6 separate regions of the Homo sapiens genome follow, and all the other regions are reported to be linked to region 3. The links are microRNA targets in miRTarBase. Many come from high-throughput screens and were not tested one by one. Region 3 holds a microRNA gene; each other region holds the end of a gene's coding sequence. Distances are from middle to middle.

The links. Region 3 holds the annotated microRNA hsa-miR-6738-3p (CUUCUGCCUGCAUUCUACUCCCAG, at 3,579-3,602, shown strand). A microRNA usually pairs through its seed, bases 2 to 8, with sites in the 3' UTR of a target mRNA and lowers its output. Matches are read on the target gene's strand: a 7mer-m8 pairs with bases 2 to 8, a 7mer-A1 pairs with bases 2 to 7 and ends in A, and an 8mer does both.
Region 1: the mRNA of MSH5 is a reported target of hsa-miR-6738-3p. The part of its 3' UTR that is shown has no 7-base or 8-base seed match.
Region 2: the mRNA of EPB41 is a reported target of hsa-miR-6738-3p. Seed matches in the 3' UTR shown: 8mer at 2,453-2,460 and 7mer-m8 at 5,083-5,089.
Region 4: miRTarBase lists BOC as a target of hsa-miR-6738-3p. The part of its 3' UTR that is shown has no 7-base or 8-base seed match.
Region 5: miRTarBase lists WDR35 as a target of hsa-miR-6738-3p. Seed matches in the 3' UTR shown: 7mer-A1 at 4,137-4,143.
Region 6: miRTarBase lists AGMO as a target of hsa-miR-6738-3p. Seed matches in the 3' UTR shown: 7mer-m8 at 1,675-1,681.

The regions. Positions count from the first base shown.
Region 1 is chr6:31,761,463-31,766,613 of GRCh38, forward strand. It overlaps MSH5 (mutS homolog 5), which reads left to right. Exons shown (of 25, transcript NM_172166.4): 22 at 10-153; 23 at 356-493; 24 at 650-723; 25 at 958-1,214. The coding sequence ends at 1,069. SAPCD1 (suppressor APC domain containing 1) reads left to right here and starts at 1,194. Exons shown (of 5, transcript NM_001039651.2): 1 at 1,194-1,706; 2 at 1,953-2,093; 3 at 2,602-2,697; 4 at 2,804-2,893; 5 at 2,974-3,388. The coding sequence starts at 1,593. The coding sequence ends at 3,069. VWA7 (von Willebrand factor A domain containing 7) reads right to left here. Exons shown (of 17, transcript NM_025258.3): 14 at 5,001-5,151; 15 at 4,783-4,922; 16 at 4,421-4,595; 17 at 4,128-4,308. The coding sequence ends at 4,132. It overlaps MSH5-SAPCD1 (MSH5-SAPCD1 readthrough (NMD candidate)), which reads left to right. Exons shown (of 29, transcript NR_037846.1): 22 at 10-153; 23 at 356-493; 24 at 650-723; 25 at 958-1,706; 26 at 1,953-2,093; 27 at 2,602-2,697; 28 at 2,804-2,893; 29 at 2,974-3,388. It also overlaps SAPCD1-AS1. RefSeq lists an enhancer at 1,788-2,343.
Region 2 is chr1:29,114,820-29,119,970 of GRCh38, forward strand. It overlaps EPB41 (erythrocyte membrane protein band 4.1), which reads left to right. Exons shown (of 21, transcript NM_001376013.1): 20 at 880-984; 21 at 2,000-5,151. The coding sequence ends at 978. It overlaps TMEM200B (transmembrane protein 200B), which reads right to left. Exons shown (of 2, transcript NM_001003682.4): 2 at 4,610-5,151. Among named protein-coding and RNA genes, the nearest start is that of TMEM200B, 6.5 kb to the right of the region's middle.
Region 3 is chr1:155,949,724-155,954,874 of GRCh38, reverse strand. MIR6738 (microRNA 6738) reads left to right here and starts at 3,539; the gene lies at 3,539-3,602. ARHGEF2 (Rho/Rac guanine nucleotide exchange factor 2) reads left to right here. Exons shown (of 22, transcript NM_001162383.2): 15 at 2,047-2,247; 16 at 2,640-2,759; 17 at 2,889-2,956; 18 at 3,099-3,134; 19 at 3,342-3,392; 20 at 3,603-4,046; 21 at 4,393-4,576.
Region 4 is chr3:113,285,814-113,290,964 of GRCh38, reverse strand. It overlaps BOC (BOC cell adhesion associated, oncogene regulated), which reads right to left. Exons shown (of 20, transcript NM_001378074.1): 20 at 3,506-4,290. The coding sequence ends at 4,103. CFAP44 (cilia and flagella associated protein 44) reads left to right here. Exons shown (of 35, transcript NM_001164496.2): 35 at 1-4,035. It overlaps SPICE1-CFAP44 (SPICE1-CFAP44 readthrough (NMD candidate)), which reads left to right. Exons shown (of 52, transcript NR_183050.1): 52 at 1-4,035. Among named protein-coding and RNA genes, the nearest start is that of BOC, 77 kb to the right of the region's middle.
Region 5 is chr2:19,908,766-19,913,840 of GRCh38, forward strand. It overlaps WDR35 (WD repeat domain 35), which reads right to left. Exons shown (of 27, transcript NM_020779.4): 27 at 1,498-4,943. The coding sequence ends at 4,793. Among named protein-coding and RNA genes, the nearest start is that of TTC32, 9.3 kb to the left of the region's middle.
Region 6 is chr7:15,197,106-15,202,256 of GRCh38, reverse strand. It overlaps AGMO (alkylglycerol monooxygenase), which reads left to right. Exons shown (of 13, transcript NM_001004320.2): 13 at 898-1,940. The coding sequence ends at 972. Among named protein-coding and RNA genes, the nearest start is that of DGKB, 300 kb to the right of the region's middle.

The DNA.
Region 1 (5,151 bases), not on the chromosome of region 3:
TCTTTGCAGGTGGATGGGCTCGCGCTTCTGGCCGCTGTGCTCCGACACTGGCTGGCACGTGGACCCACATGCCCCCACATCTTTGTGGCCACCAACTTTCTGAGCCTTGTTCAGCTACAACTGCTGCCACAAGGGCCCCTGGTGCAGTATTTGGTGAGGAGACCAATCTAGCTCCTCGGGGACCCCCAGGCTGGGCATTTCCCAGAGGTGGGGATTGGCTCCTCTATCAGAACAAGGGCTCCCTCAGCACAGAGACCACATCCCTTCCCTTTTCTCCCTCCCCACAGGATTGGCCAAGGGTTTCAGGACAGGAAGGAGGTGATTGATGATACACTGTCTTTTATTCTCTTTTAAGACCATGGAGACCTGTGAGGATGGCAACGATCTTGTCTTCTTCTATCAGGTTTGCGAAGGTGTTGCGAAGGCCAGCCATGCCTCCCACACAGCTGCCCAGGCTGGGCTTCCTGACAAGCTTGTGGCTCGTGGCAAGGAGGTGATGAGATCCAAATGTGCAACCACCTCCACATCAGAGCTCCCTTTCATTCCTAGTCCTACTGGGCCTGGGTCTAGGTCCACAGGATTTCTGACCCTTATTTCCCCTTCTCTTCCCCACTCCCCTTACTCCTCCCACCTTCTTGCTTGTTCCTAGGTCTCAGACTTGATCCGCAGTGGAAAACCCATCAAGCCTGTCAAGGATTTGCTAAAGAAGAACCAAATGGAAAAGTGCGTATATGGCCCCAGTGTCTTTACCCTCTCTGCATCTTCTCCTGCAACTCTTCTCCCCTTTTCAGGGACTCAGCCTTCCTCCAGCACTTTGCCCTTCAGAAACCCACCATTTCTTTCTGAAATCCCTAAATCTTCAAGATCCCAGGTTTTCTGTGCCACAGCCTCTCCCCTCTGCCCAGGGATTTGGTTGTCCATTCTGCCATAAATCTTGCGATTTTCTCTCTTCTTCAGTTGCCAGACATTAGTGGATAAGTTTATGAAACTGGATTTGGAAGATCCTAACCTGGACTTGAACGTTTTCATGAGCCAGGAAGTGCTGCCTGCTGCCACCAGCATCCTCTGAGAGTCCTTCCAGTGTCCTCCCCAGCCTCCTGAGACTCCGGTGGGCTGCCATGCCCTCTTTGTTTCCTTATCTCCCTCAGACGCAGAGTTTTTAGTTTCTCTAGAAATTTTGTTTCATATTAGGAATAAAGTTTATTTTGAAGAAAGATATTGTTTCTTTAGTCTCAAAACAAGAGACTAGGAAAGATCCAAAACACAGAGCAGGAGTCCACAGGGGAACCTGCCCTGCCTCAGTAAAAATACAGTGTTGTTGCTGTAGGAAGACTCCCGGATTCTACCCCAGGATACTTCATGAGAACGAACCCCTTCAGAGAGGCCCTACAAAACAGATTAGAGGGAAGACAGAGGGGTCCAAGGGAGATGGTCTCTCTTCTCAAGTAGGAACACCCCAGCCTCAGACAGACACAGCAGGAAGGGGCCTGAGAGGCTGACAGAGGCAGGATGGGTGCAAGGCAGGGGTGGAGGGGAGGGACCAGCCCGGGCTGCACCAGTGGGAGTGGCTCCACCCTTCCCACCTCAGAGCCATGGGGAGCCAGGGCTCTGGCGGGGTGCCCTTGGTGCAGGCTCCCTACACAGTCCTGCTGCTGCCGCTGGGGACAAGCCGCCAAGACCCAGGGGCCCAGAGCTTCTTCCTTTGGGTGAGTATCAGCCCAACAAGAGGTCCCAGGGGAACTCTCTCAATAGATCTGCCCTTTATATTTCCATTCAACTTGAGGGCCCACAGTGTTCCCGCCTGCCTCCCCTTGCCCTCCAGGTCCTCAGTGGCCAGTCTGGGTTCACACTCAGTGACCACACAGTGAACCCAACTAGGGGTGGAGAGAAAGGGCCATAACCCAGAGCCCTACTGTGGCGTGAGAGTCAGCCTCTGTGATTGCCTTTCCCAGCTACGCAGGATGCAGGCTCTGGAGAGAGAACAGGATGCCCTGTGGCAGGGTCTGGAGCTGCTACAGCATGGCCAGGCCTGGTTTGAAGACCATCTGAGGGAGGCACAGCGACAGCAGCTGCATCTAGGGGCCCTTGGTGAGGTATGGGGGCTGCCCCTCTGTGTGAATGGGGGGAGGACCAGGGAGGGAGGAACAGGGAATGTGTAGACACAGCCTGAGACCACTCTGGAGAGGGGAGAGTTAATGGTCAGGGATCATGAGTTGGAGGCAGCATCGTAATGACAGGATGCCACCAAGTGTTAAGTTGGTGTTCATTGTTGGGGCTGGAGGAAGCTGGTCTGCATTCCATTCAGAGGGATTTGGATCACTCCATGGAGATGAGGGTGTGGCCTGGATTATTCCAATGGGGCAGGGATGGACAGGGAGGCTCCATGAAGAGTAGTGAAAGGGGGTATTGTGCTATTTGAGGGAGATGGAGGAACTGATGTGCTAAAGAGATGGAGGTGGAGAGTACTGGATTTTCCCACCTGCCTGGGAGGGTACTGGGACGAGGGGATCCAGATGAGAGGGATGGCCTGTGGTGACAGGAATAGAGTGGCAGACGACCTCAGGTTTTCACCATGTTGTCAGCCTCCAACTCCTCCTCTAGAATTTTCTAACAGATTTACACTCAGAGCCTGGTCGCCCCCCGTTAGCCCAGATTCAAAAGGTGAACATCTGTTTGCAGAATCTGATTCATGAGAAGGTGAGTTTATTGTTTTCAGTTTAGACTTTTGGGAAGTTGGACTAGAGAGGGGAGTTGTTGGGGTCAGTGCTGGCTTAACAGAAAACACAGCGAATTTCCCCTCCAGTTCTCCCCAAGTCCACTGAACAAGGCTAGTTCCTGCACCACCCAGGATTCAAAGGAAAGACGAAGGGAGCAGAACTTGTGGCAGCAACAGGTAAACTTCAAGAAGGAGGGCAGGAGCCCCACCCTACAGGGCTGGGAGGAGCCCAGAGGCCCCATCTGTTTCTCCTCCAGGAGTTGTCAAGGCAGCAGAAAGGAGTCACCCAGCCAAAGGAGGAGATGGCTCAGCGGGGCTGCACCAAGGGGCCAAGAGGCCCTACCCGTGTCTAAACCCTCCTCTCACTCCCCTAAGCCTGGTGAAAGAGTCAGAAGCCCCAGGCTCCTTTTTCTGTTTCTTAACTCAACAGCTAAAAAATGGCTCCAGGTAGTGAGTCAATGAAGTTCAGACATGTTGGTGTAAAGTTTCTCCTCTGCTCCTGAAAACTTCATCTTCTTGGTGTCTCATGTCCTCATTCTCCCCTATATGACATGCAAAAACGATCTTTCTTTGAAATCCCTCTGGGAAGAAGCATGTTTATTGAAACTGTCCTTCAGCCTTAAATACAAAAATAAAACTGAAACTGCTCCAGAAAGCAGCTTTCTCCAAAAATGTCTTTGGTTTGTTTCTCATAGGGTTAGGAAAAGTGCATTGTGGGAATATCCATTGCCCTCTATCCCAGTCTTGCAGGGTGTTTTGTTTTGTTTTGTTTCTGAGATAGGGTCTCACTGTCGCTCAGGCTGTAGTGCAGTGGTTCGACCACAACTCACTGCAGCCTCAACCTCCTGGGCTCAAGTGATCCTCCTGCCTCAGCCTCCCAGAGTGCTGGGATTACAGGCGTGAGCCACTGCACCCAGCCCCAGTCTCGAAGTTTCTAAGAAAGGAAAGGGATGTGATGGAGAAAGAAAACCTTCATTGGCTGGGCACGGTGGCTCACGCCTGTAATCCCAGCACTTTGGGAGGCCGAGGCAGGCAGATCACCTGAGGTCAGGAGTTTGAGACCAGCCTGGCCAACATAGTGAAACCCTGTCTCTACTAAAAATACAAAAAATTAGCCGGGCGTGGTGGCGGGCACCTGTGATCCCAGCTACTTGGGAGGCTGAGGCAGGAGAATCGCTTGAACCTAGGAGGCAGAGGTTGCAGCGAGCCGAGATTGCGCCGCTGCACTCCAGCCTGGGCAATGAGCAAAACTACATCTCAAAAAAAAAACAACAACAACAAAAAAGAGAAAACCTTCATCCCAGCTAGGAGAGGTAAGGTCCTAAGACCTATGTGACAAATGTGTCCCAGGTCTTCTTACCAATGGGGCAGGTTGAAAATAGTGCTGGAGACCCATCCCTTTAGAGCCCGTTGTGTCACCAGGAGGCCAGGCCTAGCAGAAGCAGCACCCCTCCAACTGTGCCCCACCAGGGGCTGCCCGCAGCCAGCCCTGCCCCAGCCCTGCCTTGAGTCACCAATGTGAAGGGGGAAAAGGCAGGGGTGGCCGTGGTGAGGATCGGGTCAGATGAGCCGGTAGGGGTGGTGTGCCGGTCCTGTGGGGAAAAGGAAGAGAATGACAGGGTGTGCTAGAGCTGTACTCAAATTAAACCTACACCACCCTCCCCGGCCTTGCCCACCCTGTGATGGAAAGTAGTGGTTCCTCACCTGCGGGGCTGGGGCCGATACCAGGAGCCGGAGGAAAGCATGAGTCGGGGGTACTGGGTTGGCTTCTCGTCCCCCTGCAGTCACAGTCACCATCACCACGGAATCCGGGGCCGCTGAATCTGGGACCTCCAGCCACAGGCGGCCCCAGGCCGACTCATTCAGTTCCAGGTGAGCCCTGGAGAGAGGATATAGGCGTCGCTAAAGCTCCAGGCTGCCCAGAGCCTAGAGTCGGGACGCCTGCAGGGGCACGGGAGCGGAGAGGAGGATTCTGAGGGCCAGTCGGAGGGGGACAGGGGCAGGGCTTGGGATAAGCATTGGCCGGGCAAGATGCCAGAGGGAGCTGGAGGGTTCATGAGCCTCACCTGGAGAGGTTGGAGGTGAGGGAGAAGCTGGGGTTGACGAAAGTCCTAAGGTCAAGATCCTGAGGGCCCGAGAAGCTGGCGATGCGGAGACTGAGCGGGACTTTGCTGCCCGGGGCCAAGAAACCCGAGGGGCCACTAAGCTGCAGAGAAGGGTTCTTCAGGGAAGGGGCCGCTCTAACTCTCTCCAGCCCCAGCCGCACTTTCCCCTGGCGTCTCACCTCCAGAAGGACAGGGACTACAGTGCTAGGCTGAGGGGCAGCCCTGTGCAGGCGCCGCCCCGCTGCGTCCTGGCCAATCAGCTCCAGGGAGAAGGGTCTAGGGGTGGACAGCAGCGTGGGCGACAGCGAGGCTGCGAGGAGACCTCGCTCC
Region 2 (5,151 bases), 130 Mb from region 3:
AGTTATTAATAAATTATAACTTAATAGAGTTTAAGTAATAAGTAATGTACTTAGGCTAGTGCATGGCATATAACAGTCCCTTGTCCTCTTCCTTCCTTTCTTCTACTTTGGCCAAGGACATCTCTTCCTTTTTCTTGCACACTTCTTTACTTTCCTCTCCCGTCCTGAACTTGCCACTTACCCATGCTGAACACAGATGTTGTTTTGTCCTTTAGATTCACATCTTGAGTGAATCCTCTCAGACCCTCCAGGTATAATGATAGATAATAGATAGGTATAATAGATAATATAGGCCAGGTGCAGTGGCTCACACCTGTCATCCCAGCACTTTGGGAGGCCAAGCCAGGTGGATCATTTGAGGTCAGGAGTTCGAGACCAGTCTGGCCAACATGGTGAAACCCCATCTCTACAAAAAATACAAAAATTAGCTGGGCGTAGTGGTACACACCCGTAATCCCAGCTACTCAGGAGGCTGAAGCAGGAGAACTGCTTGAACCTGGGAGGCGGAGGTTGCAGTGAGCCGAGATTGCACCATTGCACTCCAGCCTGGGTGACGGAGCGAGACTCCATCTCAACAACAACAAAAAATAAAAAAAAAATAAAGGATCATATAACAGATACAGCTATGACCCCCGAAGTCCCTCTCCAGTTCCTAGAAGACAGCGCTAACCTTCCCTGTCCCTGTGTTATCAGTCCAGAAGCCTCCCTATGCAGGATAGGGTGGGTAAGGTAATTATCAGCTTGGCTTAGCCTAAAGCTGCCCTGGTACTGCAGACAGGAGTATTGGATCTGTCAGAACATCAGAGAAATGATGACCACTGCCTTCCTTCGCCATCAGGCTATTTTCTGCCTCATTGCCCTTGTTTCTGTCTTTTGTAGGTCCTTGTACAAGCCATCAAGGAGGCAAAGGAGCAGCACCCAGACATGTCAGTGACCAAGGTGGTCGTCCACCAGGAGACCGAGATTGCTGATGAGTGAGCTCAGGTACTGGGCGTTCCTGCTGGGGCTGAGGGTGCCCACAGTCCCAGCCTGAGAGGGCTCTGGATGGGACCCTCGGACACACTGGGAGCCCATCCCCACAAAGAGGTGTTCACCCTGGGACTTGATAAAGGCAGACGAGAGGCTGATGTGGGAGATATAGGAAATTAAGTATTTGGCTCCAACTAAAGCAGCCTGTAGCAGTGCCAGCATTATTGGGTAAGAGGAGGGACCCAAACTTGGATATAAGCCCCCAGCTACCCTCTGAGTCTTCATGCATCCTGCTGGAGATCCACTTCACCTTCCCCCTCTCTTCTCTCTACTGCTCTGCTTGCTGCTGTCACAGGTCTCTCTTTTTTTTTTTTTTTTTTTGAGACGGAGTCTCATTCTGTCACCCAGGCTTGAGTGCAGTGGCATGATCTTAGCTCACTGCAACCTCCGCCTCCCGGGTTCAAGGAATTCTGCCTTAGCCTCCCAAGAAGGTGGGACTACAGGCATGTGCCACCATGCCCAGCTAATTTTTGTATTTTTAGTAGAGACGGGGTTTCACCATGTTGGCCAGGTTAGTCTCGAACTCCTGACCTCAAATGATCCACCTGGCTTGGCCTCCCAAAGTGCTGGGCTGGGATTACAGGCATGAGCCACCGCGCCTGGCCAGTCACAGGTATCTTTGAGCCAGAACCTGGGAAAGCCAGAGGAGAAAAAACCAAGAAGAGCAGGATCAGGCTGTCTGGAGATGGGTGGGCATGCAGAGCAGGGAGGTAATGGCTGAAGCTCTGAGACCAGAGTAGAGAGCTGGGAGCAGGGAAGCTGCTTTTTGGGAACCAGGGATCCAGATAAATTCATGCCTAAAAGTAATTTTAAAAAGACTTGAAGAAGCCACCAATCTCACTAGGTGGGACCAGGCCCTGTAAACCTGCTCACATCCCCATTGTCACTGATGGCCACAGGAACTTGGCAATGGGACTAGGAAGCTTTTTCCTTTGCAGGATTTTAAATTTTGCTTCTTTGTTTTCTCTAGGAACTAACCTACCCCAACTCTGCCCTTCTCCCATCCAAGAGAAACCAGCAAAATGATAAAGAAGCTAACCTGCCATAGTCAGACTTCAGACTTTCAAGATTATTCTAAATCACCAGAAAATTAATTTCAGTTTCTATTGGGAGTTTATACCAAGAGATTCTTCTAGATCTCATTGATCCTTTTGAAGAGCTTTTTCTATATTAGGATATCAGAATTGTTCAACTTTTCACTCTATAGACTGTTTTAAGAGTTTTGGGGTTTTTTTAATTGGGTGGTTTGTAACCCCTTCAGCCTAGCCTCTCTGCCCATTTATTTCCAACCCCAACAGACACTGACAGGGTCCATGGAATTCTTCGGGAAATCCTCCAAGGACTCTTGTCAGCTGTGTTGGAAGCCAAAGCCAGCTTAGTGGGACTTCCGCGTCTCTCCCTAGTCTTATCCCCTTTGGATGATGGCAGAAACTTCATGAACCAGCCCTTTCTCAGAGCCAGTGATGTGAGTGTATCAGAATGCCAGGGAGGGCACCAGCCCTGATCCACAGACCTCGGAAAGATGCCCCTGTTCCTTTGTTGCGGGTGGTTTTGGTAAGGCAGAGCCCTCTGCTGAGAATGTAGTATTGTTTTTCCCCTCTCCCTCCTGCTTTCTTTTTGGAGCTTCTTTGGGTCAAAGACATGGAAGTTGCTTCAGATATCTGATACTGTGAATGTTTGAACATATCCGTGGCCTTCACCTCTCCAGCTACCCTTTTACCTCATCAGAAGCAGTGGCTCAGCTAAGTGCTCCCCCTAGCTCCCATCTCAGGAGACCAAATCTCACAGAAAAATAGGCACTTTGGGCCAAAAGCTCTAATGGAACATTTTTAGTGGTGATTTGGGGAAGGAAAGTTAATGAGGTTTTTAAAATAAGGTTTTCTAGTTTTGAGAGTGTGCACTTCACACAGGGGAATGGGGTTACTTCTGTCTGATCCTGGGCCTTTCTTTCATCCCAAATGACAAGGAATGTGGCTCAGAGAAGGGTTTTTCTTTTTTGACCTTTCTTCTCTCAACAGGAACCTGCCTGAGGACACCCTTCTAGAGCAAGGAATTGACTTTTAGGAGCCGTTCTCCCCACAAGACACCACATGACAAGGGGTATAAGCCCCAGCCCTGCTCATTCCCACTCACCAGCTGAGGTCTGTCAGGTTTTGAAGGCTTGATTTTGTGGTGGGTTTGGGGCTTAGTTTTCCTTTTTTTCATTTTGATTTTTGAAAGTGAAGATGATGCCCTAATTCCTGGTAAGGATTTGGGGCATAGTTTTTTGTTTTTTTGAGACGGAGTTTCGCTCTTGTTGCCCAAGCTGGAGTGCAGTGGCGCGATCTCGGCTCACTGCAACCTCCGCCTCCTGGGTTCAAGCAGTTCTCTTGCCTCAGCCTCCCAAGTAGCTGGGATGACAGGCGCACACCACCACGCCCAGCAAATTTTTTGTATTTTTAGTAGAAACGGGATTTCACCTTGTTAGGCTGGTCTCGAACTCCTGACCTCAGGTGATCCACCCACCTTGGCCTCCCAAAGTGCTGGGATTACAGGTGTGAGCCACCACGCCCGGCCGATTTGGGGCATTTTTATTTAACAGAACTTCTCTAACCTTCCAACTGCTTCCCACAAACACATTGGCCTCAAGGCTCCTTAGAATCCCAGTTCCAGCTTCCTAAAATAGACAGTGGGTATCGGGCAGCAGTCACTGGGGCTCAAGGGCAGTGAGCAAGAGAAATGTCTAAAGCTGCTTCTCCCAACACCGTCCAAAGTCTCCACTGCCTGAGTTTTGTTTCGGCTGGTTTGAACTCATTTCGGGTGTGTGCATTTTTCTTTTGGTACCCATGTGAGACATGAACAACAGGAGGGAGGGAAAGAGCCCAGGTGGGACGTGGGACAGGCTTAGGGGAAAGAGCTTGTCCTATCTCAGGAACAAAATTATAGGCTGTGGGCAGAGGGTCTGAAAGGTGGGCTTTGGGGTAGTGCCCAAGCCTGGTCGTGTTGCCAGGAGTGGTGACAAGAAATGCAGCTTACATCAAACGAACATGTAGTGCATGCCCACTGCCTGATGGCCAGATGGCCTGTAGGAAGAGCTACCAGGGCTTCCAGACCTGTGGAACGAAGAGGATGGGGAAAAGGCAGAGGGCACTGAGTGTCCCTTTAAAAACTAACCCACTGAATATTCCGTGTGATCTAGAACAGTGTGGCAGCTTTCACAGCACAGGACCGTTCATCGGGGGCCTAAACGTTTCCCTCAGCTCTGTCACCAACTCACTTCTCTCGGCTTCGTTGTCTGTAAATTGGATGAAAAGAGCTCTAATGCCTTTCAGGCTCTTAGAAGCCATAGATTTGGACAAGCCCAGCAAGATGGGTGTCCTTCCAGGCCTCTTCCCCTTTCCTCCATCTCTGGCAACAGTTCTTGGGGTTTGGCAATTGTTTGGATTTTTTTTCTTTCTGCAGTTGTGTGTATGTGTGTTTGTGTGAAGAAAAACAGACTCTGTCCAGGTAGAAATGGTGAGGAGGGGGAAGAGAATTACATTTCCAGGGTCAGAAACTTGGCAACAGTTTTCCTAGAGTGACTCAGACACACCACAGTAACAACTCTCGCTGCAATTTTATTTTAATTTGAGAAATAAAGATTTCCTCCAAGCCACATGAGGACTCTGGCACCCACCCACAAAGCAAGACCTGTATTTATAAGCCGAGGGCTCAGGGAGCCTAACTGCGGGACCCGTCAGGGCCCCGTGACCCATCCCCGTCCCCACCCCCCCCTCCACCGCTGGGCCCATCAGTGTGTGTTGGGGGGATGCTTGGCAGCTGGGGGTGAGGAGACAACAAACCTCGGGAACTGGAGCCAGAGCTGCGGCCTGACTGACGCCTTTTGATGCTCACGGGAAATTTCTGCCCAGGATCTCAGCCCCAGGCTGGTTGTTTCTACAAATCTCTCTCAAATGTATTATTTTGGTGACAAAAATGAAGGAGCTTTGTAAATTTTTTTTAAAATTATGAATCATATCAAGTAGTTGTTTACATTTCTTGAAAAAATAGGAACTCGGGCAGCAGAATCAGATTGGCAGAATCTTTAGACTACACAGGCAATAATCAAGTCTGCTGTTTTGGCCTTTCGTAGTAGAAGTGGTT
Region 3 (5,151 bases):
GTAATTTATAATACATTCACACAATGGAATATTATGCAACTGTTAAAAAGATGAGATGGCTCTATGAGGGCTGGTGTAGATCCACAACTGAAACATATTAAGTGAAAAAAGCAAGGTTTAAAACAATGTAAAGTGTATACTACCATGTGTGTAAAAATAATATGGAAGACCAAGGTTGGGTGAGTAACTTACTTTTTCACTGTAAGGCCTTATATTAGTTAGGGTATGATTTAACTGCTATACTAAAAGACCACAAAAATCTTCTTCCTTAAAAAAGGAAGTAGATTGGCCGGGCGCGGTGGCTCACGCCTGTAATCCCAGCACTTTGGGAGGCCGAGGTGGGCGGATCACGAGGTCAGGAGATTGAGACCATCCTGGCTAACACGGTGAAACCCCGTCTCTACTAAAAAATACAAAAAAAAAATTAGTCGGGGGTGGTGGCGGGTGCCTGTAGTCCCAGCTACTCAGGAGAGTGAGGTAGGAGAATGGCATGAACCTGGGAGGCGGAGCTTGCAGTGAGCTGAGATCACGCCACTGCACTCCAGCCTGGGCAACAGAGGGAGACTCCATCTCAAAAAAAAAAAAAAAAAAAGAAGTAGATTGGCTGGATGCAGTGGCTCACGCCTTTAATCCCAGAAGGATTTGGGAGACAGGAGGATCTCTTGAGGTCAGGAGTTCGAGACCAGTCTGGGCAACAAAACATACATAGCAAGACCCTGTCTCTACAAAAAATTAAAAAAAAAAAAATAGCTAGGCATGATGGTACACACCTGTAGTCCTGGCTACTCGGGAGGCTGAGGTGGGCGGATTGTTTGAGCCCAGGAGTTCAAGGCTGTAATACACTATAATTGCACCACTGCACTCCAGTCTGGGTAACAACAACAACAAAAAAAACCCCAACAAGGTAGAATATTATTGCTGTCAACATAACAGTTCAAAGTGGGAAGTGCAGAGTAGTGGTGCAGCTCTGCCATCTTTAACATGAAGTTTTCATCTCTATGTCATGTCTGAAGTGGCTACTCCAGCTCCCACTGTCACACCTGTATCACACCTAGCAAGGAGGAGTAAAGGAATAGAGTTTATACCCTTTTTTCTTTTTCTTTCTTTCTTTTTTTTTTTTTTTTTTTTGAGACAGGGTCTTGCTCTGTCGCCCAGGGTGGAGTGCAGTGGCGTGGCGTGATCTCGACTCACTGCAACCTCCATCTCCCACGTTCAAGTGATTCTCCTGCCTCAGCCTCCCAAGGAGCTGGGATTACAGGCATCCACCACCACTCCTGGCTAATTTTTGTATTTTTAGTAGAGATAGGGTTTCACCATGTTGGCCAGGCTGGTCTCGAACTCCTGGCCTCAAGTGATCCACCTGCCATGCCCAGCCTATACCCATTTCTTTTAAGAGCAGATCTGGAAGATGCTCATATCCATTGGCCAGAATGTAGTCATGTAGCAATATAGTCACGTGCAAGTCAGGCTGGAAAACATAGTTGTTAACTGGGCAGCCATGTGTGCCCAGATGAAACTTCTATGCATTTTCTCATTAAAGGAAGATGGAAAGAATGAACACTGTTGGACAACCTGCAACCCCTTCCACAAATCTTTTTTTTTTTTTTTTGAGACAGAGTCTTGCTGTGTCGCCCAGGCTGGAGTGCAGTGGTGTGATCTCGGCCTCACTGCAACCTCTGCCTCCTGGGTTCAAGCGATTCTTGTGCCTCAGCCTCCTGAGTAGCTGGGACTACAGGCGCGTGCCACCACACCTGGCTAATTTTTGTATTTTAAGTAGAGACAGGGTTTTGCCATGTTAGCCAGGCTGGTCTTGAACTCCTGGCCTCAAGCGATCCACCTGCCTTGGCCTCCCAAAGTGCTGGGATTACAGGTGTGAGCCACTACACCTGACCAACAGAAAGCTTTTTCTTTTTTATAAATGCCAAAATAACAAAATTAAGTCTGCCACACTGCCCCACCCTACCCCTCTCCCCTAGGGCTGTCCTCTACTGGCGCTCTTGCATACCCCTACGTCCTCTCATGTCCTCACTTGTTCCTTATCTGCAGTGGAGTTGCAGCAGAAGGACCGGGCACTGGTGGAGCTGCTGCGAGAGAAGGTCGGGCTGTTTGCTGAGATGACCCATTTCCAGGCCGAAGAGGATGGTGGCAGTGGGATGGCCCTGCCCACCCTGCCCAGGGGCCTTTTCCGCTCTGAGTCCCTTGAGTCCCCTCGTGGCGAGCGGCTGCTGCAGGATGCCATCCGTGAGGGTGAGGGAGCTCCCAGGGAAGAGTCCAGGCTCAAGCACTCACCGTCACAGAATGTGGACATGTGACTAGACATGGACAAACACAGACAAGTGGGATGCCAACCCTATAAACCATAAACGGCCCTGAGTGCCTCTTCTGGGCCAGTTCCTGGGAAAGGCAGGGGAGGAGGTGTGGTCCTTGCTGCTGCTCCATATCGTCCATGCTGCATGGACTCTGCTGCCTCGTAGGCATTTACTGCCCTTTACCTCATCAGTGGTTGTGTGAGTGAAACCCCACTGCCAGTGCAGGGGGCATTCCCCCAGATGCCCAAGTGTCCCACATGTGGGGGTGAATGGCATTCCCCTCAGGGTCCTGTGTCATTCCTGTTCTCACCTCTTCCTCTTTCCCCACAGTGGAGGGTCTGAAAGACCTGCTGGTGGGGCCAGGAGTGGAACTGCTCTTGACACCCCGAGAGCCAGCCCTGCCCTTGGAACCAGACAGCGGTGGTAACACGAGTCCTGGGGTCACTGCCAGTGAGTACCAGGGCAGGGGACCAAGGTAGTAGGTGGGAGGGGCCAAAGTTAGTAGAGTGGTACCAGGGATCAAGTGGTATCAGGGCCCCAGGGAAGTGAGCTCAGCCATCCTTTTCTCCTTCTCAACAGATGGTGAGGCCAGAACCTTCAATGGCTCCATTGAACTCTGCAGAGCTGACTCAGACTCTAGCCAGAGGGTAGGTCCTCAAGAGGTTCTGGGACTTGGCAAGAGGGTGGGAGAGGGACAGCCAGCCTCTGGATCCTCAACACAAAGCTGTCAGGGGCAGGCACCCAGGATTTGTGTGCCTGCTGACTCCCCATTCTTGCCCATTTCTGCAGGATCGAAATGGAAATCAGCTGAGATCACCGCAAGAGGTGAGATGGGAATTGATGGTATAGGAGACTGAAGGGAGGATGTTCTTAGTCTGAGTAGTTAGAGCCCAGTTTGGAGTGGGGTGGGGAAAGCGTCTACATTCAAGTATGTCTCCGGATCCTACTGTCCCCACACCCACCCTTGTTCAACTTTTGGGCAGTTCTCCCATCCTAAAGCTGGGGCCCTGTTCCCACCCTGTCTGTCCTCAGGAGGCGTTACAGCGATTGGTCAATCTCTATGGACTTCTACATGGCCTACAGGTCAGTAGGACAAGGGCTTGAATGGGGAAGGGGAGGAGCCAGGCTAGAGATGCCTGTTTAGGTGGGGCATGGTCATCCCAACAGGCCTTTCTAAATACCCTCCCAATCCAAGCTCTCCAGGAGCGATGATCTGGGCCTTGGAGGGTGAAGGCGAGGGGTAGAAGAGCACAGGGGTTCTGATAAACCCTTCTGCCTGCATTCTACTCCCAGGCAGCTGTGGCCCAGCAGGACACTCTGATGGAAGCCCGGTTCCCTGAGGGCCCTGAGCGGCGGGAGAAGCTGTGCCGAGCCAACTCTCGGGATGGGGAGGCTGGCAGGGCTGGGGCTGCCCCTGTGGCCCCTGAAAAGCAGGCCACGGAACTGGCATTACTGCAGCGGCAACATGCGCTGCTGCAGGAGGAGCTACGGCGCTGCCGGCGGCTAGGTGAAGAACGGGCAACCGAAGCTGGCAGCCTGGAGGCCCGGCTCCGGGAGAGTGAGCAGGCCCGGGCACTGCTGGAGCGTGAGGCCGAAGAGGCTCGAAGGCAGCTGGCCGCCCTGGGCCAGACCGAGCCACTCCCAGCTGAGGCCCCCTGGGCCCGCAGACCTGTGGATCCTCGGCGGCGCAGCCTCCCCGCAGGCGATGCCCTGTACTTGAGTTTCAACCCCCCACAGGTAAGGTGGCCTGCAGTGGTGAATGGACCTGGGGTGGACATAAGGGTCCATGGAGCCCGAAAGAAATTGGGCCATTGGGGATTTGAGCCCAAATGCAATCAGTCAACTGACTTGAAGGATATTGAGATACTGGTTGGAGAACTGAAAAGAAATGTAGATGGGTGCAGGGGTGGAGGAAATTAACTCGGGTCGTGGTGCTGAAAGAGGCCAGTTGGTGGTGGATCTCCTGAAGGGGACTCATGGGTGAGCCCCAGGGGGGAGAGCTGCTGCCTTCAGCCAAGCAGAACCTCCAATCTTCACACTACTCAGTCCCTGACCTGCTGTTCTTCCTGCCCACTGTCCACAGCCCAGCCGAGGCACTGACCGCCTGGATCTACCTGTCACTACTCGCTCTGTCCATCGAAACTTTGAGGACCGAGAGAGGCAGGAACTGGGGAGCCCCGAAGAGCGGCTGCAAGACAGCAGTGACCCTGACACTGGCAGCGAGGAGGAAGGTAGCAGCCGTCTGTCTCCGCCCCACAGTCCACGAGGTGAGACCCTGGCGGAGACATGGACCAGAGGTAGAGTGCAGCCTGGGTACAGGCCATTGGGCTGTGGCTTCCAAATGGGCCCTAACTGACCTGTGAGGCTTGTAGTAACTCTAGGGAGGGACTTCCTGTTTTGTCTGATGATGAATGGGTGGTGGAAGTCTAGGAAGCAGGAGGGGCCTCTCTCCTCCAACTGGTTGGTGATTCCCAACCTTTAGAAGTAAAAACAGATTCTTTTTTAAAAAGGCATGGCGGCTCAGGCCTGTAATCCTAACACTTTGGGAGGCCAAGGCAGGAGGATCGCTTGAGCTCAGAATTTTGAGGCCAGCCTGGGCAACATAGTGAGACCCACCTTCTCTACAAAAAAAAATTCATTTATTTATTTTTTTATTTTATTTAATTAATTTATTTCATTATTATTTTTTGAGATGGAGTCTTGCACTGTTGCCTGGGCTGGAGTGCAGTGGCGTGATCTTGGCTCACTGCAACCTCTGCCTTCCAGGTTCAAGCGATTCTCCTGCCTCAGCCTCCCAAGTAGCTAGGATTACAGGCGCCCACCGCCACGCCCAGCTAATTTT
Region 4 (5,151 bases), not on the chromosome of region 3:
TTGGCAGAAAGCAGGAAAATAACCAGCCTTCTTGGATTGCCCACAGTTTTTGTAGACTCCTCAGTTCTGAGTGGAGCAGAGGGGCATGCTTAATAAAACAGTCAATAAAGAGGCTTTTCTTTAAAGATTTCTGCAACTCCGTCAGAATTCTAAGTTTTCCCCATAGTTTCTCATGTCCCCTGCCATTTTCTTTCAGGTTTTACTTGGGCCATTTGCTGGTTTTGATATAGATGAGGAGATAATGAAATAGATTTACTAGAGATCATCTTTAACAATCACCTTTGATTATGCATAACATTTTAAACTAATTGAAGAGTATCCTTTTGGTTTGGGGGTAAGTGCTCATTGAAGTTCATGGCTATAACCATTGCAGGATAATCTCACTGACATTTGGAATCCTGTTAGTAACAGAGCATAGCTCTTTAGATTAAGAGCTCTGTATTAACGAGCTACTCATTGAGGCTGTTCCAGGATAAGCTGGTCACTGAGAAGGGCGGGTGAAGAAAGGAACATTGCATAAATGTAGAAGGGAACTCAGCAATGCCAAGTCTTCCTCACCTGTGATTAGCCTGCTAATGTGCCCCCCAAAATTACAGACAGGTCTTGCTTTCTTTGTACATCAGCATATTCTTAGAGGTGGCCACTTGGCCTATTGTCTTCCTAAGATTCCTTCATATTCCTATTTAAGAGGTCAGAATACCTTATTGTTTGCACTTGTCACCATTAATTTCTGATGTAGTCACTTCTCTACTGGAGAGCACCCACTTTTTTTTTTAAATCACTTTCTGTGTTGTATATCCTAAGCCATGTGTGCCTTTCAAGTATTTTTAAAAATATGCTAGTCATAGCCCTGAGTGTCTTATTTATTGCGGTAAAAAATTACCCCCAAACTTAGCTTGAAACAACAAACTTGTGATCTCACCCAGGAGTGAGAGGGTTTCTGAGGTCCAGGAATCTGGGGACAGCTTGGCCGGGTGTTCTGGCTCAGGGTCTTTCGTGGAGTTGCAGTCACACTAGGAGCTGGGGCTGCAGCCATCTGAAGCTTGGCTGGAGCTGGAGGGGCTATTAGCAAATTCACTCCCTTGGCCATTAGGCAGGGCTTCAGTTCCTCGCCATGTGGGCCTCTCCATAGGGCCGCTTGGGATATGACTTCTCCCAGAGCAAGTGATCCAAGAGTGAGGGAGACAGCAAGAGAGAATGATGTATACAAGAGCCACAGTCTTTTACAGCCCAAGCTCAGAAGTGACATAGCGTCACTATTGTCATATGGGTCACAGGCTGACCCTGTGTGATGTGGGAGGGGACTGAACAGGGTGTGAATGCCAGGTGGGGGTCACCGGGGCCTTCGTGGGAGCTGGCAGCCACAAGAAGCAGCTGCCTGGAGAGAGTGGCTGGTCTCTGAGAAAGGTCTTGAGGCGATACCATCCCCTTGGTAATTGTAGAGAATCAGGAGAAGTTACGTTATCTTCCTGGGCCTCATTTTATTATCTGACAAATGAAGGATTGGTAGAATGGGTTCCTTCCCATTCTGAGATTCTGATTCTGATTGCAGCAAGAATGGACCTACAGTCTACAGAAGAGCCACATCAGGACTTGCTGTGCATTTCAACTGAGAGGAAAGCTAATCGGGATAATTATTCCCAAACTGAGCTGGACTAAATCACTAGTTAATTCTACAATATTCAGGGCTTCATTCCGCATGTTTGGGAATTGACGACAGTTAACACTGAATTACTTTATTTTGAATTGGACAAAATATGTTGATAGCTTTAGGTTCATTTCAACTTGATTCCAGGCTTAGTCTTAAATCTGTAGTTAAGTTAGAGCATCTGAGTCTTTGGGAAGTTAAGCTTCAAACACAAGTAGACCAGCAGGGTGTGGCATGGGCAGGGTGGCTGGGAAGCTATCCTGCTCCTGGCACACTTCCCTGCCTTCTGCTGTGCTCCCAGAGGAGCAGCCTCACCTCTGAGGGTAAGGCCAAAAATCAGCCTACACTGAGTTACTTGTGGGTCAATTGTTCATATAACTTGGCTCTTCTGAACTGTCATCCATAGTATCACCGATGATCAATCTCAGCATTGGAAGAAAAAGAAACCACAGAGTCCAGCCCCTCTGTCACAACTTCAGAGTAAAGGAGTTGCTCATGCCTGCCAGCCAGCCTGTCCCACCACAGCGGGCTCCCCAGCTTAGGGAGGTCTGTGAGCCATGTGCTAAATTTCTCTTTAGAGCTAAATCCATTGAGTGCTATGATTCCAGTGCTGTGCAGAAAGCAGATGTTTCACCTATCACTTCAGAAAAGTTCACCAGACTTCATTTTGACAGCTACCTTAGATCATCAAGGAGAAAAAGGAAAAAATGTAAAAACCAGTGGGGCTAGAAGGTGAGTTACAGCTCAGATTGGGGGGCCTCTGGATAGCAAAGCAATGACTGAGAGCGTCAGCCCTACCCACCCCAGAAGTGAGCTCTGGGCCGTGATGCCAGGTTGTCTGAAATCACAGTATCTTATTTTTTCTCTTCTCTTCCCTGCTCTGCTTCTCATTTCCTAACATTTACCTGTTCCTTACAGTCCTTCCTTTTAAATAATATTTTTAAAATACTGCTTTCCTGAAAACCATGCTGCACTTCCACATGAAGTTCTCTCTGACGTTGAGCTTGATGGAAAAAGGATGCAGAAGTCAGGAATAGCAGGTGCTATACTTATTTTGGCCAGCAGAGGATGCACTTGCCCTAAACAGTCAGAGTGACTCTTCCCTAGGACCCTGTTTATCAAATTCTTCATGTTTAAAAGCCAGGGTCTGGCCCCCCACTTAACGAGATTGTCTCAAGTGGCATTTCATCTGTAACTCAATTTTACAGAAATCTAGAAAATACAGGCTCCCCCCACCCTCTCCAGCCCCAAAACACAAAGCGTAGTAAGGCTTTCATTGCAAGCATCAGTCTCCATCTAATTCCACTTCCACATATAAAGATTTTAAAATTTCAATTAAAAAAGAATCTATGGTTGATCCTTTGGTTGGACAACAGTAAGTAAATGTTGATTTTAAACTAGTGAGTCAACTACTCTGGCAATGTTGGTGTATCTTTGGAAAGAAGGGAAGTGAATTTATTATGCACCATATGTCCATGTGTGGCACAGCACTTAGCTAAACAGTATTTTGGAGAAAATATTTGGTCTTCAACACACACCTATATAAAAAAGATTAGTTCTATTTCTTCAATATGACCTAAACTTCATCTCAAGTCCAGTTGGTAAGAGAACTATGAACCTGTTTTTCCTGGTCTGTTGTACAACGGTTCCCTTGTGGACTAAACGGTAATGTGTTCTGCATGAATCCAAGCACAACTGACATTCACTGTTTTAAAAAACAAAAAAGAGAAACATTTACTACCTTTTTCAGATCTCATTTCTGATGGACCTGAAAATATTGTAAGTGGGTATTTTCTTCAAATACTCAGAGACTGAATTCTAACATGTAAAGAAAATGCTGACTCACACATGACTCAGTTTGAAGGTTACAGGGAAGACTAAACATTTATTTAGAAGTTACAGTGTTTGTTTTTACAGAGATATGTTGCCACGGATTATTGATTCTGGAAGGTTTTTTAATGCTCATAGTGCTGTACACATCTTGGTCTGTTCTCATGGGCATCTTAGGAAAATGTTTCCCGTAGCACCGGATCCAGCCATCTGTGTGGGTGTCTCCAGGCTGTGATACCGTGCCCCTTGCTGTTCCCTCATGCTCGTGATGAACCATGTGCCTGGGATCCTTCCTCTTGCCAGCTTATCTGTGGGCCTCCTGCAGCCTCGCCTGCCACTGCAGAGGCCCCAGGTTAGGAGTCTGTCCCGCGCCAGCCTGTGCGGTGCTTTCCTGGGTGACTCCTGTTAGGTGGCAGCTTCTTTATTTTCCCTCTCCAACCTCAACGGGTAGGACTCCTTATGTCTCTCCAGAATTATAAAACATATACATTTATTTACAAGTGCATAAATATATAAATATGGCTATAATAGAAAAATAAATACCAATTTTCTCTGTCTCTTTTTTCTTCTTTTTTTTTTTAAAAAAAAAACAATATATAGTCTTTCTGGGATATCAGCTTCTGCCTAAATTGTGAGAGGTGGTGTTTCAAAAGACACACGCACCAGTGGCCCCGGGGAGAGCTGCATTCCAGGTTCCTGTCCTACGTAGGCCCCTACGGGGTGCTGGGGACACCAGTCTCCTCCACTCACTTGGCAGGAGTCAGGACTGTCCACCTCTTCAACTGGCACAAGGCCCAAGCAGCATGGGGGCCCTGAGGGGAGAAAGAGTAGGAACCATTAAAATCCAGATTGACCGAGGAGCCAACACCCAGTGACACTGGGCCAATCTCTATCTGTGGTGGAGGTGGTTACACTGGCTCTGGAAAGGGGACAGAAACCTACAACCGAGACAAGGGCACTTCTGTTCCCTCCAAGGTCTCTCATCAAAACAGGGAGGGCCACTTGCCACCCATTTCCCACTCATGCTGGGACTGTAGAGACTCCCGCACTGAGCCCACACCACAGGAGCAGATGAAGTCAGTGCAGCCCGTGAAACGCAGAAGGAAGCCCTGCTCTTTCTATGTTTAGGCGGCTAGTCCACCCTTTGCTATGGCTTCTGGTTACAATCATCCCACTCACAATCCAGTCCCCCCAGATTGACACGGTCCAGTTTAAATGATGCTGGGTCGAGCTTTAGGACCCAGCATCTTTTAAATTTAATCTCCTAGAGACAGAGTCCAGGATCTGCCTATGAATGGGCACACACACAGAGAAGCTAAGAAACGTTAGTGGATACTTGGTGCCCTCACCAAGTATCCACTGATTTCTAAGGAGACTAGCATGGAGGAAGACAATGGGATGGGCTTAGCGTGAATGGCCCAAAACTCCTTGGAGAAAAAGTTCCGTGGAAGTACAAAGAGTTATGATGATGATGTTTGTAAGAATTTGGCTCCTTAATGATTGAGGCAACCTTATTCCTTAATTAAGAGACAAGCCTCAACAAAGCAAGGCATTTCAGAGTGATTAGAGAATGCCTCTTAGTGTGATGAGCAGCAAATGGAATTTGTGAATGGCCTTGAAATGCACAGACCAAAAAGGGCTTTTTTCTCTGAAATGGAGAAATAGCCTTTTTC
Region 5 (5,075 bases), not on the chromosome of region 3:
AGAAACTTCCAAACTTTTCCCAAGTGAGTGTACTGTTTTGCATTTCCATCAGCAATGTATGAGGGTTTCAGCTGTTCTATACCCTCACTATTTCTCTTGTCAATTTTAGCCATTGTAGTGTGTAGAAGCATCTCATTTTTTCTAAATCTCTCTCAATTTTACTACCTAGAAATTTAAACTGCCAAACAATAAATTAGCTAAATAATTTTGTTTTGTTTTTTTGTTTAGACAGAGTCTTGCTTTGTCACCCAGGCTGGAGTGTAGTGGCACAATCTTGGCTCACTGCAACCTCCGCCTCCCAGGTTCAAGCGATTCTCCCGCCTCAGCCTCCCAGGTAGCTGGGGCTACAGGAACCCGCCACCATGCCTGCCTAATTTTAGTATTTTTAGTAGAGACAGGGTTTCACCATATTGGCCAGGCTGGTCTCAAACTCCCGACCTTGTGATCCGCCTGCCTTGGCTTCCCAAAGCCTTTTAATGTCTACTTTCTTTTAATTTTAAAGAAATCTCTTAAGAACAAATACTGATTTTGGTACGAAGAAACCAATTATACAAATTCCTTCAGTGTCACTTCAGTTTTTTTCATCTCTTACATTCAACTAAAATATTTTATTTATAAAGATCAACTAATTTTACTTTCTCATCTATACCGTTATGTATTTTTGAAAATTTCTGCCATGAACATTTTTGCTTTTTTTTTTAATTATTATTATTTTTTGAGACGGAGTCTTGCTCTGTCGCCCAGGCTGGAGTGCAGTGGCACTATCTTGGCTCACTGCAAGCTCTGCCTCCCGGGTTCATGCCATTCTCCTGCCTCAGCCTCCCAAGTAGCTGGGACTACAGGCGTCCGCCACCACGCCCAGCTAATTTTTTGTATTTTTAGTAGAGACGGGGTTTCACCACGTTAGCCAGGATGGTCTCAATCTCCTGACGTCGTGATCCGCCCGCCTCAGCCTCCCAAAGTGCTGGGATTATAGGCGTGAGCCACTGCGCCTGGCCTGCTTTTTATATTCAAAAAAAAAAAAACCAGTAAATATTAGTTTCTTAGAGAAAAAAATGAATTGAGAAAATGGTCTTTAAAATAGACAGTAGAGGCAATACAATATTCCTATTTTCATTTTGAAACTGAGTAGAAAATCTTGGAGCTACATTATCAAATGTAGTATTCTTTATTTTCTCTTATAGGTCTAGTAGGACATAATTTCCTTCGTTCCTAAATGAGAACTCAGCATGACCATTAAGGAGTAGCTCACAGCAACCTCCAATATCTGACATTTGCCTAGTGCCTCTGGAAGGTTGTTGGGGTTTTTCCCCCCTTGTTTGGTAGCAAAAGTGGTATTGTATATCTATTGTACCTCCTGCTCCCTTTTCCCCTTCTCCACTCTGGAGCCCAATACCCTCCTAACCAACCCCCATCAGAATACTTAAATGAAGACACAGCAAACACCGTGTTCTCCGTAAGTTATAGATAAAGAAAACGTGGAATAAACACAAGTTATTTTTTTCTTCAATGTTTATTATTTTCGTATTTTTTCACTTAATACTACATAAAATCTAAGATCTCAGCTCTTGGAATACAGAAAAATAGTTTCAAAGTGTATTTTAGCAAAACAATTTATAATGAAATTAGCATTTGTGAATTAAGCATGTCAACATTACTGTGTTGCTTGTTAGGCACACTGCTTATTTGTACAGCTTTATCAGTCAGTTCCATCATTTCAATATTTTGGCCCACCACACCACTTTGAAACATGTAATGAAGGGCAAGTTTTATAATAAAAAAAACAACTTGGCATTACTCAACGGGAAGTCAGTACATGTTTTTTGCAAGGAGAACAACATAACTGTTTAATGATGCTGTCTTCAATATACTACCTAATTCTGTTTATGCAACTTCTCACCAGGTAATTGTTTTTTATGGTCAGTTTTGCTTTTCTTTGTCCCCCTAGTCAAGGGAGAGTTTGTTAGTGTTGTTATCTGGAAATTTCCTTCATGTCGAATAAAACCAACTAGATTGACTCATAATATAGGTGTTTTCTCTAGTACCATTTACACAGAAGACAAAGGTCCCCAAGACATTATGGCAGATCATTAAAACTTTCACAGATATAGATACCAAAGAGGCATAAGCTTTTACAAAAGTAAAAAAGATGTGCCTGTCTATATACATATGCGCGCACACACACACGCACACAAAATTAGGTCCACAAGGTATGAGAGGTTGTTTTTAGAGATACTGGTTTCTGGATCCAACTGAATGAGAAATATCAACTAGATATTGTTTAAATATCAACTAGATCCAGCAACTTAGGATCTACCTGGAATAATTCGTTGGTGGGAAAATTCTAGGGCTCAGGCAGCACAGAATTAGGGGGAAATGAGAAGCCTCCAAAAGAGAGTTTCCAAAGTTAGGTGAAGTCTGAGGAGTCAACAGGTGATTCTAGAACTAAAGCAAATGAAAGTGCAACCAACAAATCACAGTAAGGGGCTAGAGGCATGACAATCGAATGAATTCTCAGCTGATTCCTGAGACAGGAAAGGGAAAGAAGAGATACTCAAGCATTAGACCATGGACTAAGAATTGCAGCTCTGACCAAACTGTCCTGCAGGAACCTTTCAGACAGGCAGAACTAATAAGTGTGCCATCCCTACAACCCTGAACATTTCTCTTTCCTTGATGAAGCAGAGAATAGTCTCATCCCTAAAAACAGAAAGTCCTGTGGAAAGATGCAAGTTCAACAGGAGATGTACTGTCTTAGACAGACTTCTTTGTTAGGATGTGATTTTCTGATTTGGGGAAATTTCCCATTCTGGTATAGAACAAATGAGAAAGCTGGAATTCATTGTGTTACATTTAGGTAAGTAAGTTAGTAACCTAGGAGACTTATTAGGCAAAGTTAATAGAGCGTGTATGTGTGACCACAGATAGAAAGGAGCAAGAGATACCAAATATTCATGAAGCACTAAAAATATGAAAAGCCACAAAGATACCAAATATTCATGATACACTAAGTATGCATGAGACATATAAAGCCTTCAGTATGTGTGAGAAGTTGATTCAATTACCCACTGGTGACACTCATTCTGGCCTGTCCTTACCCAAGAAATACAATAAAATTCATGACTGCTCAGCAGACTAATAGGCAAGCTATTGCTGTGGTGAAGTGTACTTGCCCCTGACACCCTTCTATAGAGCAAGTGTACATCGTTGGCCTCAGGCACATTTCATCTGATTGAGTCATCTGGCTCAAGCGGCCACTCTGGTCCTTTTTGTAACCCGACTATTAGGGGAAAGCGTATGTGACAGAATGTGAGTCAGGACATAAAAACATTACAAAACCCAGGATTCAGGTGTTGCGGTCTTTCCACTCCACTGGCACGTTACACTAACAGTGTTAATCTATCATTGCTTTCTCCTTGTTCCTCACTGTGTATTGCAAATTGGTTCAATAAACCAATGTATTTTGAGAATTTTTATTTGGTTTATAAGGCTTTCTGTTCCATGACCTCTGGAATAGCTTGCGAGGCAGTCTATTTAGAGGCTACCATTGTACCAAGGTAATTTTCCACGAGGCGCATGAATAGAGACAGAGACCTCAAAGACTTCTGGTCTTCTCTTTTTATTTAGGCCAATGAGCCCACTCTCTATCCTAAGCTCATCTAGGCTCTAAATCTCTTCTCATAGCTCACTATTCCCAATCTGCAACATGCTGAACTTGTCTCTGTCTCTACAAGACAAAAACATATGAGATTGAGAAAGTGTATTGTAGCTGCAAAAACAAAGTTGCGTATCTCTATGTATTGCCTCTACTATATGTAAGCCAAACCTCAATAAAATAATCTTGATGAAATAGTGCAAAGGTCTGGTCTTTAGCCACAAAATGGGAATTCATGAGAAATAAACAGAGAACATTATTAGCTATGTAAAAGACATAAGAAATGATCCATTATGGATCACAACTGTTTATCTTTCAAATTAATAATAAATGAAAACAGACGCATATCAAGAAAAAATCACTCCCTCAACAATACTTGTGTAAATAAACGGTCCAACTTAGTGACAATGTTTCAACAGAAGCTATAACTACAAAATGGATATTTCTGTTTAAGTTATCTTCATTATAAATAGAGGCAAGTTTTCTGCACAATCATATGAAAGTGTAAATTCCAAATGCCATCTCTTAAATGAGACTAAAAGGACAGGTTTTAAAATAGAAGAATAGGGCTATTAGAAACAATTCAGATTGTAAAAAATGTCTTAAAATGCCATCGCCTCACTTCTGAAAATACAATAAAGAAGACATTCGACACTTATTTAATTAAATATGGCTATAGAGAAAGCTCATTTCATTATTACAATTGTTTAACTTCCTTGTAACATGGGTTATAAAAATTCTCTAAATTCAACTTTGCCCCACTCCCATGCTTCCCCCACTCCCTACTCCCTTCAAGATTTTTTAATGAATTCAGTTACCTTGACACTGTGAGAAAAAAATTTATTTGGAATATTTCCATGGTATCATGTAACCAAAAACAAGATAAACAAAAGAGAGAGGGTGAGAGAAAACATGGTTGATTTTCATACATTTATATGAAAATCGGCCTTATTATTTCACAGTTGTATTGCCATAAAAATTATTTTATTAACATATATTTTGTGCAAAAATTCAACTATAAATAATGAGGCTGATTTTCATACAAAACTCACAGAAATAAACCTTATTACATATACAGCATATAGCCATGTATATATGCTACATATATTTTACAGTTATATACAGTTTATCATTCCTTTATCCCACTGGACTATGGCATAAGGGGCAGAAGCTGTAGTGGCTTATTTCCTGAGCAAGGACACCGTGTTTGCATACACTGCACATCCAGAATTGATACTCAGTGATTGGGCTTCCTGTGGCAACGCATGTTGGCAGTTTCCCTTCTCCACTGTAAAACGGGGAGAAACAATTCATTATACTTTAAAACTTCTCATTAGTCTAACTTTATTTAATACACTTAAAAAAAACCTAAAGAATAAAACTTCTGAGATGAACATCAAATACTTTCATTTAAAAAAGT
Region 6 (5,151 bases), not on the chromosome of region 3:
TCTTCCAGGTATAGTGATATTCTTCTTGGGGAGAGGCATCTGGTCCTATTTTAATAGTATGGAGGGGAAGTATACACATACATGAAAAATATAGAGAAACTCCTGCACAGCTATCCCAATAACTCTGGTTGTTTTGGCATTGTTTGCTTTCATCATCATTCCAGTTACCCAACCACCTAAAATGGTGATCAGGAAAGCAATCCTATAGTTTTAATTGTCGGTGCCTAGGTAAGAGCATAGGGAAGTGTTTACTTTTGGGAAATCTGATGGTGCAAAGACCATGACCAGAGCCTGGATTGAACAAACTCAATGAAATTTTCAGGCTGCTTAATATGATTCAGTTAAGTCTTCAGTGTGAAAGAAATTTGCAGTTACATTTTTACACCTGATAAAATCAAAAGACTGAGGAGGTAAATCATCAGCAGTGTTTAGAATTTAATTCACGTTGGGCGAAATTCATAGTAAGCTAGATCATACTGACTTGGAGGGATTCTTTAACAGTGTTTTTACTTCTCCTATTCCAAAGGTTTCTTAACCTATATAAGCAATTAGATCATCTAGTATAATGCATACAGCATGCTGTATCTCCAAATGTCAGAAGAAATGTCTGAATATCTAACTTGTCTAGCCTCATTCCTTGAAATGACCCAGATTTGTGAATATAAGAAACAAGCCACAGAAATAAAACTTCTTAACTCCTGCTCCTGTCTTCACACACCATGTTTTAAGTTAAATTGGCTAAGTTCTATCAGTGAACAATTGCTAGATTTAATTTAATAACTTGACTCCCTAAAATGTCCATGTTCATTTTCCTCTAGGGAAATATTTTTAATTCAGTTGAGCAATAGTATTGATTCACTTCTAATTTTTTTTTCTCTTTGTGTTTTATTTCTTCAGATTGTTTTTTCCATTTGCATTGCTTTCTGGGGAGTTAGAAGCATGAAACAACTCACCTCTCACCCTTGGAAATAACCTGAATTTGTACATAATTCTCTTCTTTTAATGAGTTGTCCACACGCATATTATGACTGCATATTAAAATGTAATTATTTTATGTAATGCTTATATGAACTATTTCTTCAATGAAAAGTAAAATTACTTATTTACTATTGTTTGCCTTTCACATTTGTTATTTTCTATTAAAAATTAAAGTCAGTTTTGGTTACTTCCCCCCTTTACTACAATTAAAAAAAGATTTCAAATATAATGATGTTATATTAACTGATAGCCTTATATGACAAGTATAAAAAGAAGGGATGAAACTTAAAAACAGTAAAAACAAGAAGGAATATTGCCTTTACATCAATTTGAAAACAATGTTTCCTTTGATGTTTGCTAAAATTATGCATAGATACATGTTTGTAGTCATAAAAATGTATTACATTGGTTGTCTTCCTAAGGCCACAGTTACCTTTGCAATCCATATAACCTAAGAAGCTGCATTCCAGAAAAAGACATCACTGAGGCCAGGCGCGGTGGCTCACCCCTGTAATCCCAGCACTTTGTGGGGCTGAGGTGGGCGGATCATGAGGTCCAGAGATAGAGACCATCCTGGCCAACATGGTGAAGTCCTGTCTCTACTAAAAATATAAAAATTTAGCTGGACATGGTGGTGTGCGCCTGTAGTCCCAGCTACTCTGGAGGCTGAGGCAGGAGAATCGCTTGAACCTGGGAGGCAGAAGTTGGAGTGAGTGGAGATTGCACCACTGCACTCCAGCCTGGGCGACAGAGCGAGACTCCGTCTCAAAGAAAAAAGACATCACTGAAAGAAAAATGAACAGAATTTGTCAGAATTAGTTTTTTCAACAGGTTACTTTGTCATACATTTCTCTAATATGCTTGGTCAATTTGTTTTGGCAGACTGGGCAGCATGCAGCAATTCTGCATTATTTAAAGTTATCAGAACAATGTTAATTCTCTAAATAAAATTACCCAAGGTGTTGTGTGTACATTGTTCATTGGGATTGTAAAAATCCACCAAGTGTTTCGTTAGGAGGGAACTGACAGGGATAAGCAGGATGAAGTCCAAAGAATGAGAACTGGAAAAAGTTAAAAAAAAAATCTTTATTTTTCATTTATCCAATATTTCTTGAAATCAAGTTAAAATTTAATAATTTAATAATAAAATTTAATAATTTAAATAATCAAAGACACATGTACTAAAAAAAACTAATGCTGTTCTTCATTGAGCTTTGCCTATGTATCACTGGGTTAAGGAGCCTGACTTAGATAATCTCATATTAGCAATACATTATTTAATCTTTGAATGGACAAAAATATAGAGTATTAAGAGAATCAGACTGCAGGTGTCTATGTGAACTGAGGATACAGAATTGAAGCATATTTAGTTTTCAAACTGGAACAGCAGAGGAAGATTAAATTTTGCATGATGAAAAAGCAACACATTCTATCTCAAGTATCAGAAGTGGGTTTGGCTTTGCTTCATTCTTTTTATACTTCTTAATTTAACACATAGTTATAGACAATACGTAAGCCTATAACATATATTGAATCCTGCTTTTGTCCCTTAACAACAATTTTCACAGAATTTTGTATACATATACAGAATCATGTTACAGTAGGGAGCCCTCTGCTGGCTTGAAATTAGGAAATTTAAGGCATAAACATTCTCAAGACCCTGATTCTACATTCTAGAGACTTTTCAGTGGGTAAAACACATTCTTCAGTAATGGCAAAGAAAAGAGACTTTTTGCTAATCTTTACATAGTTGTTTAGTATGTCAGAAGAGCTTAATGATTCCCCAAGGAATGATACATAAATATGTGTATATGCTTTAATATATGTGAATTTATAGGATTAGCCTAAAAATGAGTTTAATAATAGAAATGTTAATAAATAATTCCCCCAAATGAGAAAAGATCCTTTTGTGGTGAAGTTCAGTTTTCTTTGAGTAAATTGAATTCTGTCTATTCTCTCTCTTCTCTCTTGGGTTTACCTCACTGTGATTGTGAATGGTTTTCTATTAGAAATACAGATATTTTCAAGATACAAATTTGTGCCAATGAAAGTGGGAGTGGTTACCAGACAGGTAATGTTCCAGACACCTCCTATACAAAAATTATAACAGTGAAAAAATTAAGACAATGAGAAATCTGACCTAACAGACTCCATCTTGCTTCTAACCTCCAAGGTGTCCTTGTTTATTCCTGGGCACAGGCTGAGCTAACTTTGGTAGGAACTTAGTTTATAGTTTGCCTTTGAAACAAAAATGATAACGGCACTTTCTTAAAACAAACCCCCTTCTTGCCTGGGGACAAGGCTGCCTTTGTGGGACTAACAAATTAGCCACAAGATTAGAAAATAGGCTTAGGAGTCATACAGCTAGAGGCTACAAGATTCGAACTCTCCCCAGTTGCTCCTAGGGATAACATCATTATTGTGAAACCTCAGATTGGTGTTGGAGATATTTTTCAGCTCCTGCACTCCATGGATCAGCTGGCACCACCCAGATGGATAAACTGACTCATCTGGTCTTGTGGCCCCCACCCAAGAACTGACTCAGCCAAGAATAGCTTCAAGGCTCTTTGATTTTTATCTCTGACCTGATCAGTGAGCACTCTCCATTCCCTGGCCCCCTACCCACCAAATTATCCTTAAAAAACCCAGTCTCCGAATTTTCAGGGAGACTGATTTGAGTAATAATAAAACTCCAGTCTCCTATTCAGCTGGCTCTGCATGAATTGAACTCTTTCTCTATTACAATTTCCCTGTCTTGATAAATCGGCTCTGTCCTGGCAGCAGGCAATGAACCCATTGGGCGATTACATTTCTAGGGCCTCTGTGCATTATTAACCAAGGCACTTTATTCTTCACTTTATTCTTTAACCCTGCTAATTTTCCAGTCCAGTTTTCTTTTGCAGAGCACTAATACATGATGACAGAACATACAGCTATTATTAATGTTGTAAATTGATCTTGAGTGATACCATGTAATGTATGCTTACTGGAAGGACTTTAACACACTCTCTCTCTGTCTCTGTCTCTCTCTCTCTCTCTCTCTCTCTCTCTCTCTCTCTCTCTCTCTCTCTCTCTCTCTCTCGGGAAAGCCCTAAAAATAGGACTCGTCAATTACTCACCACTTCTATCGGAGAGATGCAAACTGACTTTGCAAATCATATGAAGATATTTACTTTTCCTAATCTACCATAAGAAAAGATAGAGGAAAGGAGCATTTGTTTAATGAGTAGTCCTCTATTAGTATTATTTTATTTAGTCTCTACAATCCTGTTAGGAGCTGTTAACACTACTTTATAGCAGATAATTTTGAGTCTGAGGTTAAATAACTTGTACAGGCCCATGAAATGTAATAAGTGACCAAAATAAAATTTAAACTCTCTGAAGTCGAACATTGAAGTCCATGATGTTTCCCCATTCCACGATGTCAGACATCTGAATAAGGCAAGCCTTTAAAAGTATAAGCTGAGGAGTTTAAGTTCAGAGTATTTTCAATTCAATTTGATGCTCCAAGATACAAAAAAAGTTCTCAGGATAAGTATTTTAGTCATAAGATTAATTGACAGGGTGAATGAGTCCAGAACTTCTAAACCTTCTAAGAATGGCAACATCGTAAGTTTACTTATAGGATTGCCATATGTCTGAAAGAGGCTACAGGACTTGTCAGTTTCCTCCAGACTTGCTCATTACCTTAGCTCTATTAGTTATGCCATTTACTTCCATATCATCTCATTCCATCAAATTATTTTTGTTAAACTGAATCTAATCGTCTCAGAGTCCTGATATTTAGCAATATGTGCATTCCTAATCATGAATCAGATGTTCAATTAGTTGCTAAAGTATATAAACCCTTGTATTTAACATTAACAGCTTACATGATAGTTTATTAAATATTTTCAAATTTCATTTTTACTAGTGATTATATAATTTAATCCCTCAGTGTGGAATCTGCAATAGAATCATTGACTGGAATTCTTTAACATATGGTATACATTATAGTGTACAGTAATAGGATTTATTCGGGAGAACAATAGAAAATAAGCTTCCTTTTTAATGTCTCGCCCATGTTCTCATAGTCATAGACTCCAGAAACCCAAGATAAAATAGCAAAAAACAGACTAGTTTGACTTTCAGAATCTTAAAACATTTTTTATGTTATAATTTTCAGCAACATGA